Linked DNA regions of Homo sapiens. The protein of the gene in region 1 interacts with the protein of each later gene in a pairwise test. Each region holds a gene or a part of one and is shown on either strand. Other genes may lie near its edges.

Region 1 (5,447 bases):
TAAATATGTAATAAAGCAAGTATGGTAAAACGTTAATAGTAGAATCTAGTGGGCTGGGCACGGTGGCTCACACCTATAATCCGAGCACTTTGGGAGGCCGAGGCAGGCAGATCACCTGAGGTCGGGAGTTTGAGACCAGCCTGAGCAACATGGAGAAACGCCGTCTCTACTAAAAATACAAAATTAGCCAGGTGTGGTGGCGCGTGCCTGTAATCCTAGCTACTCGGGAGGCTGAGGCAGGAGAATCACTTGAACCCAGGAGGCAGAGGTTGCGGTGAGCTGAGATTGTGTCATTGCACTCCAGCCTAGGCAACAAGAACAAAACTCCATCTCAAAAAAAAAAAAAAGAAAGAAAGAAGAAAAAAAAAGAATCTAGTGGATGGGTATATATGGTGTTCATTGTAAAATTCTTTTTTTTTTTTTTTTTTTGAGATGGAGTCTCGCTCTGTTGCCCAGGCTGGAGTGCAGTGGCGATCTCGGCTCACTGCAAGCTCCGCCACCCGGGTTCATGACATTCTCCTGCCTCAGCCTCCCAAGTAGCTGGGACTACAGGCGCCCGCCACCACAGCCGGCTAATTTTTTTGTATTTTTAGTAGAGATGGGGTTTCACTGTGTTAGCCAGGATGGTCTTGATCTCCTGACCTCGTGATCTGCCCACCTCAGCCTCCCAAAGTGCTGGGATTACAGGCATGAGCCACCGCACCAGGCCCATTGTAAAATTCTTTAAACTTTGCTACATGCTTGAAATTTCACACTAAACTATGGAAAACACCATAAAGATAAGTAACAAATGGGGCAAATATCCATTAAACATGTTTTCAAACATTTTGGTTGACTTCCATTTTTTTAAACAATTATTTGTTCATGCATTCATTCAACAAATATTAACCTAACATTGGCTATACGATAAGTACTGTTCTAGGTAATGGGGATACTGCTGTGAACAAAATAAAGTCCCTGTCCCCACGAACTCAGCTTGGAACCCAAACTCTTTTTTTTTTTTTTTTTTTTTTGAGAGGGAGTCTCGCACTGTCCTCCGGGCTGGAGTGCAGTGGCGTGATCTTGGCTCACTGCAACTTCCACCTCCTGGGTTCAAGCGATTGTCCTTCCTCAGCCTCCCGAGTAGCTGGGATTACAGGTGCCTGCCACCACACCCAGCTAATTTTTTGTATTTTTAGTAGAGATGGGGTTTCATCATGTTGGCCAGGCTGGTCCCAAACTCCTGACCTCGTGATTCACCCGCCTCGGCCTCCCAAAGTGCTGGGATTACAGGCGTGAGCCACCACACCTGGCCCCAAATTGTTTCCCTACCGTAAATGCCTAGAGAAGAAATCACTGTCAGTGGTATGAGTAGTTATAAGGTTCTTGATACAATCAATTTGAACTGTAGTCATCAAAATTCAAGAACTGGGCCATCATGGTGGCTCACACCTGTAATCCCAGCACTTTCGGAGGCTGAAGCGAGTGGATCACCTGAGGTACGGAGTTCGAGACCAGTCTGGCAAACATGGTGAAACCCCGTCTCTACTAAAATACAAAAATTAGCCGGGTGTGGTGGCACGGGCCTGTAATCCTTGCTACTCAGGAAGCTGAGGCACAAGAATCCCCTGAGCCTGGAAAGCAGAGGTTGCGGTGAGCCAAGATCGCACCACTGAACTCCAGCCTGGAAGACAGAGTGAGACTATCTCCACAAACAAAAACAAACAAACAAACAAACAAAAAAAAAAGGAAAAAAAATCAAGAACTGAACAGATATGAATAAATTTATAAATTTTCAGATGAAATTATCCTGAACTCTCTTGACATCCAATATCCAAACCAAATAAATTCAGGTATTGAACTCTTGCTATCTAAACTCAGGAAGGGAACATATTTGGATAGAAAGGAATATTTTTAATTGGCCACCAAAGCACTCTGAACAAACACCTTCCAAAGGCATATCCCTTTTATAAAGCATTTCTAGGATGCTGGACTGAATCATCATATATGAGGATCTTCACAAAATGAGTATATTTCTAGAAAATATAAAATGCTAAAATTGGCAGAAGAGATGAAATGGTAATCAAAAACCAGCTCCAGATGCTTTTATTTTATTATTTTTTGAGACAGGGTGTCACTCTGTCACTGAGGCTGGAGTGCAGTGGCATGATCATGGCTTACCACAGTCTCAACCTCCCAGACTCAGGTAATCCTCCTGCCTCAGCCTCCTGAGTAGTTAGAACTATAGGCACCTGCCACCACGCCCAGCTAATTTTTGTATTTTTTGTAGAGACAGAGTTTCGCCATGTTGCCCAGGATCGTCTCGAATTCCTGGGTTCAAGTGATCCAACTGCCTCAGCCCACTGCGCCCAGCCTCCAGATGCTTTTAAAGGTGAGTCCTACCAAGTTTTTCGAGGTACAGATAATTCTTATACAAGTTTCTCCAATAAAGAGAGAATAACAAAGGCTGCCCAATTCATGTAATGAGGCTACCTTGATTCCAATGCCAGATAAATACTGAAAATAAAAATATTGGACTACCTCACTGATAAATACAGGTGTAGATATCCTAGATGATACAATGGCTAATAAAATCTAACAAGGTTTTAAAAATATACATAAATCACTTAAATAACATTTCTGCCAAAAACTCATGAGTAAGCATCAGAAAAATCCAAACTGAGAAACATTCTATAAAACAACTAACTTTAAAACATGCTTTCAATATAATCCATAGGTTCAGGAAAAAAAAAAATGACAAGGTCATAAAAGACAAAGATAGAATAACTGTTTCAGATTAAAGGAGACAAGGAGCTCAATGCAATACATGATCTTGGACTGGATCCTGGATTGGGGAAAACCATTATAAAGGACATTATTGAGAAGAGTGATAACATCTGAATATGGGCTTTATATAGAATAAAAGTACTATATAATTGTTTAATTTCCTGATATTGATAAGTATATTGTGGTTATGGAAGAGAACACCTTTGTTCTTAAGACGTACATGCTGCCAGACTTAAAAGGTCATGTCAGGCTGGATGTGGTGGCTCATGCCTGTAATCCCAGCACTTTGGGAGGCCGAGATGGGCGGATCACCTGAGGTCGGGAGTTTGAAACCAGCCTGATCAACATGGAAAAATCCTGTCTCTACTAAAAATACAAAATTAGCTGGGTGTGGTGACGCATGCCTGTAATCCCAGCTACTTGGGAGACTGAGGCAGGAGAATCGCTTGAATGCAGGAGGAAGAGGTTGCAGTGGGCCGAGATTGCACCATTGCACTCCAGCCTGGGCAACAAGAGTGAAACTCTGACTCAAAAAGAAAAGTCATGGCTGCCACCAACTCAAACGATTAAAAAAAACGTGTGTGTGTGTGTGTGTGTGTGTGTGTGTGTGTGTGTGTGTCTATGTAAAGATATAGAGCTATAGGGTGGGCCAGGCGCGGTAGCTCACGCCTGTAATTCCAGCACTTTGGGAAGCTGAGGCAGGTGGATCACCTGAGGTCAGGAGTTTGAGACCAACCTGACCAACATGGTGAAACCTCGTTTCTAATAAAAATACAAAAATTAGCCAGGCGTACTGGCAGGCGCGTGTAATCCCAGCTACTTGGAAGGCTGAGGCAGGAGAATTGCTTGAACACAGGAGGCGGAGGTTGCAGTGAGCCAAGATCACGCCATTGCACTCCAGCCTGGGTGACAGAGTGATTCCGTCTCAAAAAAAAAAAAAAAAAAAAAAAAAGATATAGAGTGATAGAGCAAATGTGGCAAAATACTTAAAACAAGTAATTCTGAGTAGAGGATATATGGGAATTCATTATACTTTTTCTTGCAACCTTTCTGTAAATTTGAGATATTTTCAAAGTAAGAAGTCATAAACATATACATACATACCATGATCAAGTGGGGTATAGCTCAAGAATGCCAAGGATATCATTTAATGCAATTTACAAAATTTTTATTTATTTTTTTGATATGGAGTCTCACTCTGTTGCCCAGGATGGAGTGCAGTGGCACGATCTCAGCTTATTGCAACCTCCACCTCCCAGGTTCAAGCGATTCTCATGTCTCAGTCTCCCCAGTAGCTGGGATTACAGACATGCTTCACCACGCCTGGCTGATTTTTTTATTTTTAGTAGAAATGAGGTTTCACCATGTTGGCCAGGCTGGTCTTGAACTCCTGGCCTCAAGCGATCCAACCACCTTGGCCTCCCAAGGTGCTGTGATCCACCATGCCAGGCCACAATTTATGAAATTAATGGACAAAGGGAGAAAAAAAGCACAGGATTTTGAAGTTCAATACTTATTTATGGTCAATCTTAGCAAACGAAGATTAGATAATTTTCTTGATTTATTAAAGGATACATTCTAAAAACTTACTGCATGCACCATACTTAATGGAGAAACTTTAGACACATTCCCTTTTATTCCTCTCCCTTCTTCCTACTGTCTCAACTGCCATGTGCTGAGGATGGCTACACAGAAGGGGCTGCCTGTCAGCCCTAGATTAATTGCTCTTCTGCAGACTGCCTTTATGGGAAAGAAAAGTAAACTATCTTGTCTAAGCCATTATCCTTTGGACTTTCTGCCACAACCAGCCAAAGTAAATCTTAATTTGTGTACCCAGTATCACTTATACTATTTAATATGGTACTAAAAGTCCTGGACAATACTATAAATGAAGAAAAATAAATAAGTGACAGGATAGATTTGCATACAATATGACCAACTACTTAGAAAGAACATCAGAATCAACAATGAAGTATTAGAAATAATAAGGGCATACAGCAGGGGTAACTTACAGAAATCAACAGCTTTCCTCTACCCCAGCAAATACCAGCATGAAAAATATTTTTTAAAAAATAAGATAATGGCCTGTAATCCCAGAACTTTGGGAGGCCAAGGTGGGTGGATTGCTGGAGCTCAGGAGTTCAAGATCAGCCTGGACAACATGGTGAAACTCCGTCTCTACAAAAAATTAGCTGGGCGTGGTGGTGCGTGCCTGTAGTCCTAGCTACTTGGAAGGCTGAGGTAGGAAGATCACTTGAGCCTGTGGAGGTCGCCACTGCACTCCAGCCTGGGTGACAGAGCAAGACCAAGTCTCGAGAAAAAAAAAAAAAGATAATGAAAGTGACTGAAGTACCTAGGGATTACTTTAACAAAGAATACATAAGACCTGTATTTCCATTTATGAAAATGAAAGCTTTTTATGCTCTTTACATAAATTTCAAAATATTCTCTACAAAGGTCTTAGATGAAATGACTACTTACAAAGATAATTTTCCCCAAATTAATAGAGAAGTTCAGTGTAACATCGATCAAAATTCTTGTTGTTTTTGAGGGACTTTGATAACTTTTGATATATAATAAAGCCCCATAAATGATTAAACCAGCTTTGAAAAATAAGTGCAAAGGAGCTACTAAGACATTCTATAAAGCCATAATAATAAAAACAGTAAGGTGCTGGCACA
Region 2 (3,500 bases), on another chromosome or scaffold:
GTCTCTAACTAGAATAATAATAATGGGTGTTTGGTAATTCCAAACACCCATTTCCAACAGGCCAAATAAAATACGTTATATATTAGTAAAATTTTTATTTCTTTTTTTTTTTGGAGACAGTCTTGCTCTGTTGCCCAGGCTGGAGTGCAATGGCATGATCTCAGCTCACTGCAACCTCCGCCTCCTGGGTTCACCGGGTTCAAGTGATTCTCCTGCCTCAGCCTCCTGAGTATCTGGGATTACAGGCACCCACTACCACGCCCAGCTAATTTTTGTATTTCTAGTAGAGATGGGGTTTCACCATGTTGGCCAGGCTGGTCTCGAGCTCCTGATCTCAGGTGATCCGCCCGCCTTGGCCTCCCAAAGTGCTGGGATTGCACACGAGCCACCGCGCCCGGCCATAGTAAAAATCTGTAAGTTTTTCAATTAAGTCACAAATCAAAAACATTTCAGATTATGGGCCGGGCACAGTGGCTCACGCCTGTAATCCCAGCACTTTGGGAGGCCGAGGCGGTCGGATCACGAGGTCAGGAGTTTGAGACCAGCCTGACCAACATGGTGAAACCCCGTCTCTACTAAAAATACAAAAATTAGCCGGGCGTGGTGCCGTGTGCCTGTAGTCCCAGCTACTCAGGAGGCTGAGGCAGGAGAATCGCTTGATCCCAGAAGGCAGAGGTTGCAGTGAGCTGAGATCACACCATTGCACTCCGGCCTGGGTGCCAGACTGAGACTCTGTCTCAAAAAAAGAAAAAAAAAAGAAACCAAAAATGTTTTAGATTATGTGCCAAGATGTTTTTAATAACAGCTTTGAGGTATAATCCACATACCATACAATGTACTTAAATTGTATATTATAATTCAGTGATTTTTAGAATATTCAGAGTTGTGCAATCATCACTGCAATCAATTTTAGAACATTTTTATCACCCCTTTAAAATCCCATTAGCAGTCAATCCCCTTTCACCCCATGGTCCAAATTCTCCCCAGCCGCAACTACAAATCTACTTTTCGGCTAGGCAAGGTGGCGCACACCTATAATTCCAGCACTTTGGGAGCCCAAGGTGGGAGGACTACTTGAGCCCAGGAGTTCAAGAACAGCTTGGGCAACATAGAGAGACTCTACCTCTTAAAAAAAAAAAAAAAATTATTTATTTATTTATTTATTTATTTTATTTTTTATTTTATTTTATTTTATTTTTTGAGATGGAGTCTCACTCTGTCACCCAGGCTGGAGTGCAGTGACGTGATCTCAGGTCACTGCAACCTCCACCTCCCGGATTCAAGCAATTCTCCTGCCTCAGCCTCCCGAGTAGCTGAGATTACAGGTGCCCACCACCACACCCAGCTAATTTTTGTATTTTTAGTAGAGACGGGGTTTCACCATATTGGCCAGGCTGGTCTCAAACTCCTGACCTCGTGATCCGCCGGTCTTGGCACCCAAAGTGCTGGGATTACAGGAGTGATCCACCGCACCCGGCCTAAAAAAAAATTTTATTGTTTAAGTTAGCTGGGTGTGGTGGCTCACATCTGTAGTCCCAGCTACTCCGGAGGCTCAGGTGGGAGGATCACCTGAGCCTAGGAAGTTGGGGCTGCAGTGAGCCATGATCATGTTACTGCACTCCAGCCTAGGTGAAAGAGGGAGACCCTGTCTCAAAAAACCATACAAACCCCAAATCTACTTTTTACCTATTCTGGATATTTCATAAAAACGGAACCGTAGCTCTGGTCTTTTGTGACTTGCTTCTTTGACTTAACATAATGTTTTCAAGGTTTATTGCCAAATAATATTCCATTGTATGCCTATATACTACATTTTATTTACCCATTCATAAGTTGATGGCCATTTGTATTTTTTTTTTCACTTTTTGGCTATTATAAGTAATGCTGCTATAAACAGTTGTGTAGTTTTTGTATAAATGTGTTTTCATTTCTTTTGGGCAAATACCCAGTAATAAAATTGCTGAGTTGTATGAACTCTGTTAAACTGAGGGGCCGGGTGCAGTGGCTCATGTCTGTTATCCCAACACTTTGGGAGGCCGAGGTGGGAGGATTGCTTGGGCCCAGGAGTTCAAGACCAGCCTGAGCAACATGGCAAACCTTAAAAAAAAAAAAAAAAAAAAAAATTAGCCAAGCACGATGGCACGTCTATGGTCCCAGCTACTTGGGAGACTAAGGTAGGAGAATTGCTTGAGCCCAGGGCGTTGAGGCTGCGTTGAGCTATGATCACACCACTGCACTCCAGCCCAGGTGACAGTGAGGCCCTGTCTCAAAAAACAAAAAATCAATTGAGGAACTACCAGACTATTTTCCAAAGAGGCTGTACCGTCTTGCATGCCCACAAGCAGTGTCTGAGGGTTCTAGTTCCTCTAGATTCTCACCAATACTTTTTGCTATATATTTTTTTTTATTATACCATCCTGTTGGCTATGAAGTGGTTTTGATTTGCATTTCCCTAATGACTAATATTGAGCATCTTTTCATGTGCTTATTGGCCATTTTTATATCTTCTTTGGAGAAATGTCTATTCAGATTCTTTGCCCATTGTGCTAGATTTTTTTACTCAGAAAAACGATCACTTTACCTTCTAGATGTGTTACAGAGATAGGCAGCCCTGCTTGTAAACCTTCGTCAGGATCCAGAGTGCATAATACCTCTATTAGGTTAGGTAGGTTAGGAGCATAGGACCCTTTGGGAGGAATTCAGGGCCATTCATTTTATATCTATTGAACAACTACTGTGAGTTAGGGTGTGGTAAAATGAAGATGAATAAGATGTGGTGGTCCTTGCCCTTGAGTTTATGGTCTACTAGGGGGCTTGGGGGGAATGGTGAGTGACAAGTCCACAGCTCTCCAGAGGAGGTGGTGGCATATAGACGGAACTGAATGTACAAAGCGCGGTGGCATCAGAAAATGAGAGTTGCATGTGGTTTATTGAGGGGCATTGTTCAGGAAATGCCCGGGAAGTTCAGCTGGCCAGAGACCTGGGGAGTGTCAAGTGGGAGAGATTAGCAGACAGACTCGGAGAGAGGTTTTAGAAGGCCTTTCTACAGAAGGTGGTTGAACTATTTCCTGAGGGCAGTGGAGCCTTTGAAGGGGAGTAGTTAAGCGGGGATCTGATGGGATTTATTATGAACAACTAGCTGTTATGTGGAGATTGGCTGGGCAGGGGTAGGTCTGTCAGACTGAGGAGACTGGGATACTTAAGTAATGACCTTCAGAGCAGTGCCCCTGGCTGGCCTGTCTGGAAGCCAGGGTTTTGCATCCAGATCGAATATTGGCCACAGATTGGATCTTAAAAGTTATTTTTAATAAAATGGTAATATTAGGATTTTAACTTGTGCATTCTTTTGTCTTCAAAATGAAGTGCAAAAGGAGTGTTTGCCTGGGGAAGCTCTTTAGTTGGACTTTAGTTGAGATTATGTTAAATAAATGCCTTACTTACTGTTAACATTTCTCTTTTTTTCCTTTAAGTTCTGTTGGACTTGAACTGTTAACATTTCT
Region 3 (3,500 bases), on another chromosome or scaffold:
GTCCTAAAATACAGCAAGGAAGAGGAGGTGCTTAATACCACGGAAAAAAGTCTGTGTCATGTTTCTGTGAGGTTAAAAGTAATTTGATAGTGTATGTCATGCTGCTGACATATTCCATGTGTTTGATATCTTCCCAGCAAAATAATCAGCTCTCATTTTCCCTTACAGAGTCAACTGTTCATTTTATTTCAAAATTGGAGCATGTCGTCATGGAGACAGGTGCTCTCGGTTGCACAATAAACCGACGTTTAGCCAGGTTTGTTTGCCTTTTTTTCATGTAAATTATAAAAACTTCATGTTCTTTTCAAAGACAGTTAATTTCTACATATTAAGCAAGTCATTTTTTCTCTCGTAGTTGTATTTTCCATTTGTGTTCATAAGTGTGTTCTTTTATTTAAATAATAGTGAGGCAGGTGATCGACTTCCAGTGGAAGGTCTGAGACCACCACTCCTTGTTTTTATCATTAGAGAAACTTTAAAAATCAGTTTTTGATGTTTGTGTGTTGGCTGTGCCTGATATTTGCTGCCCTGCCATCTTCCCTACCCCCTCTGATAGACATGGGTCCAGAGGGGGTGGCCGTGCCAGCCTTGGGTTAGCCTCCTCCAGGCACCAGTGGACACGGAGTGGGCTTTCTGCTCTTTGCTGTCTCCAGACAGTAGAGGTGATGGAGCCACCTTCCAAGTTAGCGTGATTGTCACCAGGCCCATCATGCTGCTCGAGCTTCTCTGGCTGCGTCCTCACTTTCACATCCCTAGCTGAGGAAACAGCGAGTCGCATCACGTCATGGAAACATGAAAAATTAAGCTGAAAGGTAGAAAATGGGCCGTAAATTGCTCTTAGCGGGTCTGTTTGGTTAATTGAGGAGTGCCTGTTATCTTGGGCTTAGATCCGCTCTGAGTTCAGTTCAATCAAAAGTTGTGAGTTTTGATAGTTTTATTTTTGGTTAGTTGAAGAAAAGGCAAAGGTTGGTACACTATAAAGGATCACTTACGGATTAAAGGGAGAAGGCACCTCTAATCGGAGCAGAAAACTTGTGCCCACGTTGATGAGAACATTTGAAATTTGAAAATCGATGCCCAAGTCTTTCCAGATGGAGGGCTGGGGAACTCCTTCCAACCCACCCTTGAAGTCTAAATGTGCAGCCTCTGAGCTGTTGAGTAGCTATTATGCGTGGTCCCTGGGAGCTGCCAGGCTCTGCCTTTGAGCTCACATCTGTCTGTATACGTTTTCCTGTAAGCATTTAAGAAAATCTACCACTTTGTGTAAGTGAGCTGGGAGAAGGAAACATGGGTTTTTTCCGGTTGAAGCCCATGGACGACCCCACAGCACACAGTGTTTTTAGAAGGGAAGAGGATGATGGCTTTTCCCTCCATTATGCTAATTACCAAGTGGTTAGTATAATAGCAGTCTGTCTTTTGATAGCTCTGAACATGAGTTTCTTTTTACAAATTTCAAAATCTTGGAGAACTAGCTTTACATTTTCTGTGTATTGCAATTGTTTTTTCTTTAATGTTTTGATTTATGAACCGAATCTCCCCTAACTAAACCAGTGGCCATGGATTGTGGTATAACCAAGCATCTTAAGTGACCACCCAGTTCTTTGATTTTGGGGGGTGTCCCAAGTGTTGGGCTGAGAGAAATCAACTGTTCCCTATTCTAAAAGTTTTCTTTAATCTGGCTGGAGGCACTTTCTTTATGTTTTTCTGGATCATAGATTACCTGAGAATGTGAAATGTGAAGTTAATTTAGGCATTCCAGGTCAGTGCTGGGGAGAGCCCATTGGAGCTCGATGGGGTCAGTAGTATGTGTCAGCTTAAGCATCCTAGTTTGATGCGTGGGTTTGTTTTGGTTGGTTTTAGGCAATCCTAGCCACCCTTGGCTTTCCCATTAGACTGCATTGCCTCTTTACGTTAAGCTTCCTTCATTAAATAGCCACTGCCAGAATACCTGAGTGAGACCAACTGAATTTTACTGTTGAATAATTGGGCTCAGTTTAGCTTTTCATCAGGGTTGTCATGGTACGGTCATTTCAGTTCAAAGCTGAGTCAAGTCAGCTTTGGGAAGCCTCCCAGGCCTGAGTTCAGTTGACTCAGGGCTGTACTTGGCGGCTTATGGAAGAAACGGGGCCCTGATGCAGGTCTGAGTGGTTCAGTGTGGACAGTTTGTCAGACCTCCCTCTTAGGTGGGGTGGGCTTCCCAGCTGCACACCTTTGACTGAGGAACTCTTCATACAACCACTCCCCTTTAAACAGAGCTAGAAATGGAGCTGGCTGGTTTTATAAAACCACCACTTACAAAACTGCTTCACGTGGATATTGTTGAGACTAAACATTTATTTTTCTAAATCATGCGAGTGATTGCTTTAGCTTGTAAATCTCTAGCATAATTCAGGGTGGGTTTCTTTATAAGCTGCTTACAGTGATATGGACGTTAAGATTCATGTAATATATTAGCCTACTAACTTAAACATGGTTTGTTTTTTCAGACAACTTGATTTTAAGAAGAACGGTACAGTGTAAGGTTTCAAGTCTGCCTGATCCAGTTTAAAGCACAAGGGCTAAAAGGATTTTTTTTCCTTAAAAGAAGGATCGGAAAAGAGCAAATGTTTTAAGCTATTGTATTATGTAAACAGAGATCCCACCAAGAAAGTGTAAATCAGAGCCGGGTGTCCATGACAGTTGACAGACCTGTTTGGTGTGCCTGTTTTGCTAGGAGACCAGAGAACTTGATGTACTGCAGACAGCTGAGTTACGCATTTGGTTTTGAAAAATTATCTTGTGTGAGGAATATGATTATAACGTGAATTTTTCCACATCTTGGTGTCTGCTAGCTTGAAGTACAAGAAAATATTAGTATTCTACTATTTATCTTGCATTAAAACACTTTAACATTGAAAACGTGGGACTAATCAAAACAATACAGTTTCTTCTTGGTTGCTGGCTGACTTGACCCAAGTCACTGCTCAAACTCTGTTTTCATAATATGATGGTTTTGGTGTACTCTTCAGAAGACAAATGTCTGACTTGCGGGAAAAAAACAAACGTTTAGCCATTTGCAAACAAATTGTCTCTTTGCAATTGTCTAATATATGCACAGCAGCCAGTAGAATTCCCCTTTTTATTTTTTTTTCCCCGCAGACCATCTTGATTCAAAACATCTATCGTAATCCCCAAAACAGTGCACAGACGGCTGACGGCTCACACTGTAAGTCCCACAGTTGGAGAAATTTTTTTAAAACAATGGTGTTAAAGAGCCCACTCTTAATTGAGACAAATAATGTTGGCTTCTGAGCTGCTGACATAGAGCTGTTGCAAACAGGACAAGGTGCTGGAACTCCTTGGCGCACACAGCAAGAACTTGATACTTGGCCACGTTCAGGAGGCTTATCCCTTCTAGGGAGGGTCACTGGCCCGGCCACCTCCATTGATTGACATTTGTCATGAGAGCAGGTCCGTCCATGTGAAACGGATTTCAACATTTTGAGCCATTCATTGGTCTT
Region 4 (3,500 bases), on another chromosome or scaffold:
ACCTCATATAAGCGCAACTATAAAATATTTGTCCTTTTGTGACTGGCTTACTTTACTTAGCATAATGTCTTCAAGGTCTATCCATGTTGTAGCACGTATCGGAATTTCATTCCTTTTTCAGGTTGAATAATATCCTAACGTGTGCACATACCACATTTTACCTATTCATTTGTGGATGAACACTTGGGTTGTTGCCACCTTTGGCTACTGGGAGTATTGCTACTATGAACACTGGTGTACAAGTATCTGTTTGAATCTCCACTTTTGATTCTTTTCACCTAGAAGTGAAATTGGTGGATCATCATTCTGTTTGTTTAACCTTTTGAGGAACTGCCAAACTGTTTTCCTCAAGAGTATATTAAATGGAGGTTGTGGAGTCAACTTCTAGAGAGTGCTAAAGACCAGCAAATGGCCATCTGAGTGGGTCTGTGCCATTAGATCAAGAAAGAAGGACAATGCTAGAAACACCGGAGCATCCAGGGCTGAGAGTGTCCCGGGCCACAATAGGCACACATTGGTTTTGAGGCACAAACTGTTGAGTCTGTTAATAAGAAAGTATTGTATTTCTTCTTGGCCTCACGAGAACCTGAGCCTCAATGGCCACCACTGTCCTCTCTGTTCCAGCTGCCAAGAGTGACAAGACACACATACCCCGAGACTGCTGAGCAAGAACGGAAACAGACATTTTCCATTAAGCTAGGTCCAGTGGGATCTGCTAATCTATCAGAGCCTCATTCCCCACGGCGGCCTCTCTCTTATCTTCCCAGGCTCTGGCTCTGAGACACTCCCTCTCCAAAAAGCAATCACTAGCTTCCAGGACTAAAAGCCAAGGAGGAAATAAGAACCCAAGAACAGACGCCCCCTAAGCACCACACCCCGGGGCTCCAAACCCTAATCATTACTACTGTTATCCCCATTTGCTACATTCATCAACCCTTTTTCACTCTTAAGTCTCAAGTACCTGCTGCTAGGATACCGTTTTCACTCCCATTTTTGCACTCCTCATTTGTATTGCTTTCTGCTTTCTGGCTGCCCCAGGCTCTTCCATGTTTTCCATAGACACCCCGATAAACACAACAAATCTCATCCAGGTTCAAATACAATTGCAGCTACTCACAAACTGTGTTTTCAGGCAAATCACTTCTGTTCTCTAAACTCCTGTTTTCTTCTTTATAAACTAAAGTAAGTGCCCAGCACAGTTCAGACATTAAGCAGGTGCCCCACACAGATAAGCACACTCTCCCTTCCCTTTAGCTAGGGCTAAAACTTAGCTAAATCCACTGCAGGCAATTCTTATTTGGTTACTAGAAGTGACAAAAATTAGTGAAATCTGTCTCAGAGCTTCAAATTTTCTACTATCTTGGTAAACAATCTGAAAGTGGTGGTAAATACTAATCCAGATAACCCTGAAATTTCTGTGTGCTTTGGAATACACTTTATAAATGATAGAAAACTCTTCCAGCAGACTTATTCTTCTGATTTTGGTTTCTCATATGCTAGGAGAAGTCTGCCTCCCCTGAGCCTATGAAATCAACCAGTGTAGCTTGGGTCACAGCAAGAAGGGAAAAAGAAAGGACGATTATCCATTCTATGGATCATTCCTAATTCCCCACAAAAATCAAAAGCTGACTGAATTTAATTTTGGAATACGCCTGGAGGGAGAATTTGGTACTACGCTGACTGCAGATGATTGGATAATATGACCCAAATCAAATCAACCAAATTCTCACTCCAGGAAAACCAGAATTGAGACTACCATCATAGTTCAATCTGGACTGATCTCTAAAAGGAAAGAAATCAAAACCAAGGTGTGGGTGGCCATCCTTCACCTACAACAAAGGTTAAGAAGCCAATCCGCAGAGAAATAATGAATCAAGGCCAGAAGCAGTGGCTCACGCCTGTAATCCCAGCACTTTGGGAGGCTGAGGCAGGCAGATCAGTTGAGCCCAGGAGTTTGAGACCAGCCTTGGCAACATGGTGAAACCCCATCTCTACTAAAAATACAAAAATTGACCAGTCCCATAATCTGGTCTCAAAACAAATAAATAAATAAATATATTAAAATTTAAAAATAAAACAAATTTTTTAAAAAATGAATCAGATGTGCAAAGAACAGCTGTGTAGAGATCCCCAACAGATCTCAGGTTCCTGATGCAGGTCCCTTCTGAGGTACCACAGTATATTTATGATGCATTACCATTTAAGGCTAGGCGTGGTGGCTCACATCTGTAATCCCAGTACTTTGAGAGGCCAAGGCAGGAGGGCTGCTTGAGCTCAAGAGTTCAAGACCAGCCTGGGCAATGTAGCGAGACAACGTCTCTATTTATTTAAAAAAGAAGAAAAAAAAAAAACATTTAAACTAGCTTGAGTTGGCTTCTAACACTTGCAACAAATGAAATCTAACTAACCCCCAATCTGCTCTGCCTCCCGTATTCCCTCAATAAATGGCAACACCACCCCCCAGCTGCCTGAGGCAAATGCAGTGGGGGTCAATCTTGAATCCTCTCCTTAGTGTAACATCTAATCAATCCTCCAGTCTTATCACTTCCCCCTCCTAAATATACCTCGATGCTCCAGTTCTCTCCATCCCCTAGTTCATCATCCAGGCCACCAGCCTCTCACATTCTGCCAGTCTTGCTCCCTCCAAGGTTCTCACCACTCTGTGATCAGAGAATTCTTGCCTTTAAGGGGTCTTCACAACCCCAAAATGAGGTAGAAAGACCCTAGCATGGCATCCAAGGCCCATTATCTGGCCTGAGCCTCTCTCTCTCTAGCCCCATTCTCTCAGCACTCCCCACCCTCTCAAATGCTCCAGCCACTGTGCTTTACTCACCTGAGGTTCCCTGAAAGCACTGTCCCTCTCTGTCCTCCAAGCTTTTATACATTGTTTCCTCTGCTGTGCTGCTCCCATACTACCCTTTCTTCAGCCTTATCTCTGCTTAGACATCTCCCCCCAGAGGGCTCCCCAACCTCCCAAGACTGGACTAATGCCCACTAGGTATACTCCAATGGCACCAGCTTATCACGGTCCTTCTCTGCCTTGTCCTAAAATCTATTTCCTTCTGTGTTTTCTCCAGTAGATCATAAGCTCCTTTCGGGCTGGGGCTATCATGTTCACTACTGTACATTCTTAGCTCCAGGTACAAAGAAAGAGCTCAATATCAATTGAACGAAATGGTTGAGAGTTAATTACTTCTAATTACTTCTACTTCAGCACCAAACTCTAAAGGGAAATTATTTACTTAAGGAAACCTAATTCATTCTTTCAAATGCGTACTAAGAGCCTAAGTGTAAGACATAGAGCTCAGAACTGGAGGGGCTTACATCTGGAGGGGGCACAGCTCTTTTAAAGACAATGGTTGGCTGGCGTGGTGGCTCACACCTGTAATCCCGGCACTTTGGGAGGCCAAGGTGGTCAGATCACCTGAGGTCAGGAGTTGAAGACCTGCCTGACCAACATGGAGAAACCCCAGTCTCTACCAAAAATACAAAATTAGCTG

What was found. Proteins that work in one complex are often made in the same cells at the same time.
Region 2: the proteins of RBM10 (region 1) and PRC1 interact in a two-hybrid assay, tested with the Homo sapiens proteins (one large-scale study listed by BioGRID).
Region 3: the proteins of RBM10 (region 1) and U2AF1 interact in a two-hybrid assay, tested with the Homo sapiens proteins (one large-scale study listed by BioGRID).
Region 4: the proteins of RBM10 (region 1) and PRCC interact in a two-hybrid assay, tested with the Homo sapiens proteins (one large-scale study listed by BioGRID and IntAct).

What each region holds. Positions count from the first base shown.
Region 1 is NC_000023.11:47,150,713-47,156,159, reverse strand, and holds part of RBM10 (RNA-binding protein 10), read right to left. Parts: intron 1-5,447. UniProt on the Homo sapiens protein: Binds to ssRNA containing the consensus sequence 5'-AGGUAA-3'. May be involved in post-transcriptional processing, most probably in mRNA splicing. Binds to RNA homopolymers, with a preference for poly(G) and poly(U) and little for poly(A).
Region 2 is NC_000015.10:90,988,036-90,991,535, reverse strand, and holds part of PRC1 (protein regulator of cytokinesis 1), read left to right. Parts: intron 1-2,911; exon of another isoform or gene 2,912-3,500. UniProt on the Homo sapiens protein: Key regulator of cytokinesis that cross-links antiparrallel microtubules at an average distance of 35 nM. Essential for controlling the spatiotemporal formation of the midzone and successful cytokinesis.
Region 3 is NC_000021.9:43,101,071-43,104,570, reverse strand, and holds part of U2AF1 (splicing factor U2AF 35 kDa subunit), read left to right. Parts: intron 1-168; coding exon 169-256; intron 257-3,138; coding exon of another isoform or gene 3,139-3,205; intron 3,206-3,500. UniProt on the Homo sapiens protein: Plays a critical role in both constitutive and enhancer-dependent splicing by mediating protein-protein interactions and protein-RNA interactions required for accurate 3'-splice site selection. Recruits U2 snRNP to the branch point.
Region 4 is NC_000001.11:156,770,535-156,774,034, reverse strand, and holds part of PRCC (proline-rich protein PRCC), read right to left. Parts: intron 1-3,500. UniProt on the Homo sapiens protein: May regulate cell cycle progression through interaction with MAD2L2.